2 linked regions of the Homo sapiens genome follow. The gene in region 2 interacts genetically with the main gene of each other region. Each region holds a gene or a part of one and is shown on either strand. Other genes may lie near its edges.

Region 1 (3,823 bases), on a different chromosome or scaffold from region 2:
GAGATGAAGAAATCTGGTTACCACTGACGCTCAGCTAAAGGAACCAGCTTTTCAGCAGCTGGAACCTGGGACTTTGTGCACTTTAAGACAGTCAATCCCCTTATTTAAGCTCTTTTGAATGGGGCTTTCTCCTACAGATTAGGCCATTCTGACTAAGAACTCATTGAAAACTTAAAAACAAAAAAACTACACAGCCCAAAATATGGCCGGGGCCTATGTCTTAGTCTGGCATTTAGGTCCTCCATAAATCTACCAGTAACAAGCACCTGGGAGGGCCTACGGCCTGCAGGACAGCTGCCTTCAGTGACCATGTGCCTTCATGCCCAGCCCCTCTGCACACACTGAGGGGCCTTCTCCACTTTTGTGCCTGGTCATCCTTCAGGTTCAGCTCAATCATCTCCTCCTTTTCTGGCCTCTCAGAGACCTGCTCTTTCAGCTGTCAGCACCACTAGCATAGTCTGCGATAATCCGGTCACCTGTCTTGCCCCACAGACTGTGAGCTCCTTGAGGGTGGGGCCAATGTCTTTCACCCCCAGTAATTGTTGGTTTGGTGTATCAAAGGCAGAGGTTAGGGCTAGGGAGCATTCATCTCAGTGCTTGTTTTACTCATGAAGAAAACAAATCTAAGAGGTTATGGAGCTTGGCCTGGCACAGGGACTTCCAGCTTCCCTTAAGAAATGGAAGACCTGGCCACACAGAAGGTCCATCTCCACAGTCATGACTGGCTGAAGCTGATAAGAACTGCCCCTCTGGATGGGGCAAGGGCTCTCCGGTCTGCCCTACTTGCTACCACTATCTACCATCTCTCCTGACATTTATCATCTCTTTTTTTTATTTTTGTGACAGAGTCTCACTCTGTTGCCCAGACTGGAGTGCAAAGCAATGGCATGATCTTGGCTCACTGCAACCTCTGCTTCCCGGGTTCAAGCGATTCTCCTGCCTCAGCCTCCCGAGTAGCTGGGACTACAGACGCCTGCCATCACGCCTGGCTAATTTTTGTATTTTTTTAGTAGAGACAGGGTTTCACCATGTTGGCCAGGCTGGTCTCGAACTCCTGACCTCATGATCCGCCCGCCTTGGCCTCCCAAAGTGCTGGGATTACAGGCTTGAGCCACCGCACCCGGCCGACATCTATCATTCCTGCCAGGCCTGCATCAGTCATTTCCATCACACACCTGTGCCTTGGCAGTGCTGGAGTTTGTCATCCTACACTTCTGTAGGATGTAGCAAGCCCTGCTATCTTCTGCAAGCAGACAGAGGGAATTGTTCAGATTTTCTTTCTCCCCACTCTCCAGGGTCCAGGCTTTGCACTAAGCTAGACAAGCCCTGCCTGAGAAGATGCGCCTGCCTATGTGAGGCTCCGGGCCAAGGTGCAGGATGAGACTTCCTCCATCTCTCCAGGACCTCAGGGGGACCTGTGCCACACTCCAAGCTTCCCTGGGACTCTGACAGGGAGAGTCATTTTGTATAACGTTAACGTATGCACAATAACTAACATGTAGATTCTTGGTCTCATATGCCTTGGTGGGAAATACTGGCCTAGCTTATAGAGCTGGTGGAGACCTCGACCTAGATATAGACCCAGGACACTTTTAGCTACGGAAGTCTTCGTTTGGGGGGTTTTAGTAGCAGGTTTTACCTAAGGAGATGTGGATGACAGCAGACGGAGGAGGGCATGGTGGAACTGGAGCCTTAAGCCTTAACCTGGCCTTCCTTTCTTTTCCTTACCTGGCCCTAAACCCTGGTTTTTCACTTTTCTTTTTTTTCTTTTTTTTTTTTTTTGAGACAGTCTCACTCTCATCACCCAGGCTGGAGTGCAGTGGCATGATCTTGGCTTGCTGCAGCCTCCGCCTCCCAGGTTCTAGGGATTCTCCTGCCTCAGCCTCCCGAGTAGCTGGGATTACAGGCACCCGCCACCATGCCCAGCTAATTTTTATATTTTTAGTAGAGACGGGGTTTCACCATGTTGGCCAGGCTGGTCTTGAACCCCTGACCTCAAGTGATACATCTGCCTCGGCCTCCCAAAGTGCTAGGATTACAGGTGTGAGCCACCACGCCCAGCCCTATACCCCCGTTCTGAGGAGTGAGTGTTGGTGGCTCAGAGGCCTGGCAAGTCTTACCTGGGCAGAGGTCACAGCTGCCGGTGCCTCCCCATCACTGTCTGATTCCTCGCTGCTGCTCCCTGAGTCATCCTGCTTCCCTGCCTGGGCAGCCGAAGGCCCTGTCTTCCCAGGAGGTGTTGGGGCAGCCCCTTTCCTGGGGGACTCCTTGGCAGGAGCCAAGGCAGCTCTGATCTGGTGGGTCTTCCCTGAAGGCTTCACCTGGAGGGAGAAACAGGATGAGAGGAGAGAGCCTGGAGGGTGGACGTGTGAGAAGACAGGAGCTGGATGTGGCAAAGGTGTTACATCCCATGTAGGGGATGATCTCCATTCCCTCCCCCTCACCTGAGCCAGCGTCTCCGCCTCCTCCTCACTGTCTGACTCCTCCTCACTGCTCCCTGAGTCCTCCTCTGGCCCTGTCTGGGCCTGAGCTGCTGTAGCCACGGCCTTCCCCACAGATGGCACAGATGCTGGGCCCCTCGCCAAGACGGTACTGTTCTGGGGGTTTCTCACTGGTGGCTTCACCTGAATTGCAGGGGGATAATAGTATTGGAGGCAAAAGTGATTCCTTTCAGGTCCCACTCCCCACTATGGCACAACTCTGGGTGGGTGGCCTGCCCATGCACGCACCTTCTCCTGGCTGGGCTCAGTGACTGGTCCTCCTCTCTACCCCAACCCTCCACACCTCCTGTGGCTTCTGGCCCCACTTGCCTTGGATGGAGACCTCTGCTTGGCTTGAGCAGCTGCAGTGACAACTTTTCCAGGGGCTGAAATTGTCCCTTTTGCTGAAGGTGCTCTGGCGGCAGCTGGGTTGGCTTTGGCCTGGGTTTTCTTTACTGAGGTTTTCACCTGAGTGGAGAAAAGGGAATTAAGGAGGGAGAAGGTGAGATTGAGTAAAGCAGCTAGCCAAGAATACAGACTCTGGAGCTGGAGCCCGAGTCTGGATTCTGGCTCCTCCATGCAATAGGCGTGTGAACCTGAGCTCATCACTTGATCTCACTGGGCCTCAGTTCAGTCCTCTATCAAATGGAGATAATAATAAGGCCCACCTACGGGTTATGATGAAGACTAAATAGGAGATTCAGAGTTTAACATGATGTCTGGAACATAATAAACACTCAAACTCATTGTGCGTGCCTTCCTTAGCATTAGCTAAGCACAAGACTACCTAAAACAGATGTTTTCCAGGCTCCCTTTCAGCTAGGTGGCAATGTCATTAAATTCTGGCTCATAGGATGTAAGTTGAGTGCCATAAAAGGTCAGAAACATGTCTCTTCCTCCTCCAGGCTAGATGGAATGCTGAGGTCAGAGCTGGAGCTCAAGCAGCCACGGCAGAACAAGATACTTGTTGTTTAAGGTTTTCTTCAGCTTAATCTAGCCTTAACCGATATCCAGAGAACCCCCAAAAGGCCTGTCAGGGATTCCAACAAATAGAAGGAGAACAAAAAAAAAGGGAAATTCCCAGAGTGAGATCCTTAACAGGAGTGACAGCAAGCCTAATGTGAAACAGAATGAGGACTCTGGCAGCATCTCAAGGCCCCTGCCTCACTCAGGGATGGCATCTGGTCAGTGTCAGAAAACAACCCCATCCCCCAGCATTCCTCAAACACATGAGGTCAAATGAGGTGAAGAATCAGGACTTCAAGAAGATTCCCTACAGTGTGGACCAAGTATGACTCAGGCCGAGGTGCTCATCAGTAGAGCACGTAAATCCTCCAGAGGGG
Region 2 (3,823 bases):
CTTTGAATAAAACAATAACCCAAAGAGAGGTATTTAAGTCCTGAGGTAGTTTAGAGGAGAAATAAATCACATCTAGTTAGTTAGGAACTAAATATGTTTTGTGTAGGAGTTGGCATTAGAAACAGAAAGATTTCTATAGAAAGATTTTTGATGGACGTGGGCTGAGGGCATTCTAGGTAGGAAATAATGCTTAAAAATTAGATATTTAACCATCTACAGATTTAACTTAGCAATACTATTTATTTCACCTCAAACTTGGATAACTGAGAGCGGCATAATAGATTCTTGTGAAGTTTTAAAAATAGCAGTATGATTCATGATGTCAATTTACTTGGGCTAGAATTATAGTTGCCATATCTGTTTTTTTTTGTTAATTAAAACAGTCCTGTAGTTTCCTGTTTCTTCTACATTTTCATGTGCAAATTGTTTTTGTAAAATTCCAAATCCAAGAATAATTCAAACCACCTAATTGTCTGACTGTCAGATGTGAGCATTGAAGCTTTTGTTTTGCTTTGCTTAACTATGTTCTTTGACCTATAAAATGTGGAAAATAGGAATTTAGAAATACTGCATTAATTCACTTGAAACACATCAGTGAAATTTAATCAACTTAATATTGAGACTAAGATAAGAATATAGCAGTTAATCATTAAAGTTAATGGCAAGAATTTTGGAAAAATTCCATGTCTTTTTCAACTATTAATTTTTTATAAAACACTACATGCTTATTGTTGAAATTTTAGAAAGTCTGTAAACTTAGAAAAAATAAACAATCAAGAGATGACATTTTATATTTTGATGTTAAAAGGAAATATCCTTTTAGTAACTTTGTTGTGCTAATAATTATATAACATGTATAACCAATATGTATATAGCTGACATTTAATATATGTTATGTATCTGGGGTTCTGTTATTCCTCTTCAATCTGAAGAACTGCTTTTAGGATTTTTTTTTTTTTTAAATTTAGTTCTTTTTTTAAAAAAAATTGAGATACAATTTACATACTATGAAATTCACTATTTTAAGATGTTCAATCTAGTGGTTTTTAGTCTTTTCCACAAGGTCATAAAATCAAGACCACTATCTAATTCCAGAACATTTCATCACCTATATGGACTGTGATGATTAGAACCAAGGGAGCCTTATATGAAAGATTTCAAGGAATGAGTTACAGAGATGAGCCTTGAAGGCCCACAGGTTTTGAAAACCCTTCAGTGGTTCCCTGTTATTCATAGCACAAAAGCCAAACTGTTCAATATAATATTCTTTATATCTGAAGCGTGCCTGTGTCTTCAGTCTCATCTTTGATTGTGATTGCTAATCACAAATACTCAGCTTTGGACAATTTCATGCCTTTGTTATACCATTTGGCCTATCCACTATCCTGCTGGAAAATATACTCTGCATCTTTCAGGATGCAGCTAATGGTCATGTACCTTATTACCAAACTTTCTCTTATTCTTCAAGTAGAAATAACTACACTCCTTGTACTTAGGCTTAGGTAATGCTTTCTTACAACAACAAAATATATTTTTCCTAAATCAGTGTGTTTTTTTTGTAATTTTAGATGGTTGTACATGGAATTTCTGTTATAAAATTAGATAGCAAGAAAACCTATCTGGTTTCCTAGTAAGAATATGAGGAAAGAAAAATAATTTTAGGTCAAAAACATATTAATAATTAAAATTTTAAGTAATACTGCATTTTATACCTGTAGTCATCCTTTAATGTCCTTATCTTGTTCTGTCAGACTGCATTTTTTTTGACTTTTTAATGGCTATGGTAGATTTGCAGTGATCTGTTCATACTCCCTTGCCCTGTTCCCTTTGAACAAAGCCTAGTAAAGTGGTATGAAACCAAGAAAGGCCACATGGCTCACATGGGAATTAAATCTATAATGAGGATGCCATTTATTGTCATAGATTTTATGATTAAAGTAATTGGTGTATAACAAAATTTAAAGCATTAATGATTAAACAAAAATATTTTTAAAAAAGATCCTGACGTTTAGAATTTAAAATTTGTAGTCTTCCTACCCTTAATTGTCACTTAGTAATTCAAGCATAAAGCAAAATGTAGCATGGAAATTCAAATATGAAAAATATGATGAGATATTGTCAGGTGATTCTATTTCAGTATAGAATAAATGCATGATGGGGATGGGGGGCTAACAGTTTATTGATATGATCTGGGTACAAGTGTGTTCACTTTGAAATTTCATCAAGTTGTATATTTATGGTTTATGTGCTTACTGTGTGTATGCCATATTTCAATTAAATTAAAAAAAATTGTTATTAAAGTATGAAGAAACTTACCTTCTTTTCTCTTTCAAGGAGATGATTATTGACAGAGTAAATGGACAGGCTGTTCCTAGATATTTGATATATGACATAATTAAATTCAATGTAAGTACCTATAATTTATAAAATACAAGTTATTACTGAAATAATGAATGTATTTTTGACAATAGTCTTTGGTGCTGCCTTAGAGATAGTAGGAAAGAAAATTTGTGACTCAGGTTACTCACTGGGAATCTTTTTTTTAATCCTTTTATATCTCCTTTTCTTTCTCTTATTGTTAATTTTCACACATTTCTTTGTTTTAGGTTTCTTTAACTTGCAAGTGAGTAAAGAATAATGGCATAACTCTGATAAAATAAGACAGCATTTCATAAAATGAACATTTCTGATTTTAATTATCCTGTACTTTTTTCTTTTAAATCTCATGAGTTTATTTCTGTCACCAAAACAGCAACAAAACAAAAGAGAAACTGATTATGAGCTGTTGAATGGGTAATAAATTGCAGTATTAATTCAGGATTGCATTAATCCAGGTTATTAAAAGACATTTTTTTCTGGACATTTTTAATGCACACATCTAATTTTTTGATTGAAATTCTGTATTTAAAACAAAGAACTTCAAATTTAAGAGCCTCAGGGCCAGAAAACATCAAGTTTTATTTTGTTCTGTTTGACTGTATTCCTCATAAGTACTGCTTTCCAGAACTGGCTTAATCTCATCACAGATCTTGGAATAACATTCATTGGCCTATAACTAGACATAAGGGGTGGCGGGGTGGCTTTGTTTCTTTGTGAGTAGGGAAGTTCTGTCTCCTTTACTTCTTGACACTGAGCTCTGCTTTAATACATGTTCAGTCTGGGCTTACTCTCACTTCTTAGCTGAGTACTGTCTCTTAGATAGCAGTTTTCTAATACTTTTTAAAAATATGAAAAATTTCACCATATAGAAGAGTCTGAAAAATAATGTAAGGAATACTCATGTACTGACCAGCTAGATTTGTTAAAACTTCATACTTTTGGTCCACTTTCTTTTTAATAAGACATGATTCATTACGAATCCAATAGAAGTTTCTTAGTTACACCTCTCTCCTAATCTCAAATCTCTTGCCCAGAATCAGCCTCTACCCTGAATTTGGTGTGTTTATTGTTCCCATGAATGTTTCAGATACTTTTACTACCTATGTGTGTATCCATGAAATATATATGATATTCTTTTGCAAGGTTTCTGGTGTTATATAAATGTTATTGTACTATACCTTTGCTGACCTTTGCTCAACAAGATAATGTTGAGATTTATTTGTACTAATATGTCTAGATTTAGTTCATTCACTTTAATTACCATTGAGTATTAAATTGTATAAATATACAGAATTTATCCTTTTTCCTTTTGATGAACATTAAGGTTTCCATTTTTTGCTTTTATATTACTACTATATTGAACAATTTTATGTTTTTTTCTTGTGCGCACATGAAAATTTCGCTAGGACAGTTGTTCTCATTCTTGGAATGTAATTACCTGGGA

What was found.
Region 1: changes in RNGTT (region 2) and TCOF1 together harm fitness more than expected from each alone (negative genetic interaction), as found in Homo sapiens cells (one large-scale study listed by BioGRID).

What each region holds. Positions count from the first base shown.
Region 1 is NC_000005.10:150,378,030-150,381,852, reverse strand, and holds part of TCOF1 (treacle protein), read right to left. Parts: intron 2,949-3,823; coding exon 2,811-2,948; intron 2,625-2,810; coding exon 2,445-2,624; intron 2,322-2,444; coding exon 2,121-2,321; intron 1-2,120.
Region 2 is NC_000006.12:88,848,338-88,852,160, reverse strand, and holds part of RNGTT (mRNA-capping enzyme), read left to right. Parts: intron 1-2,334; coding exon 2,335-2,406; intron 2,407-3,823.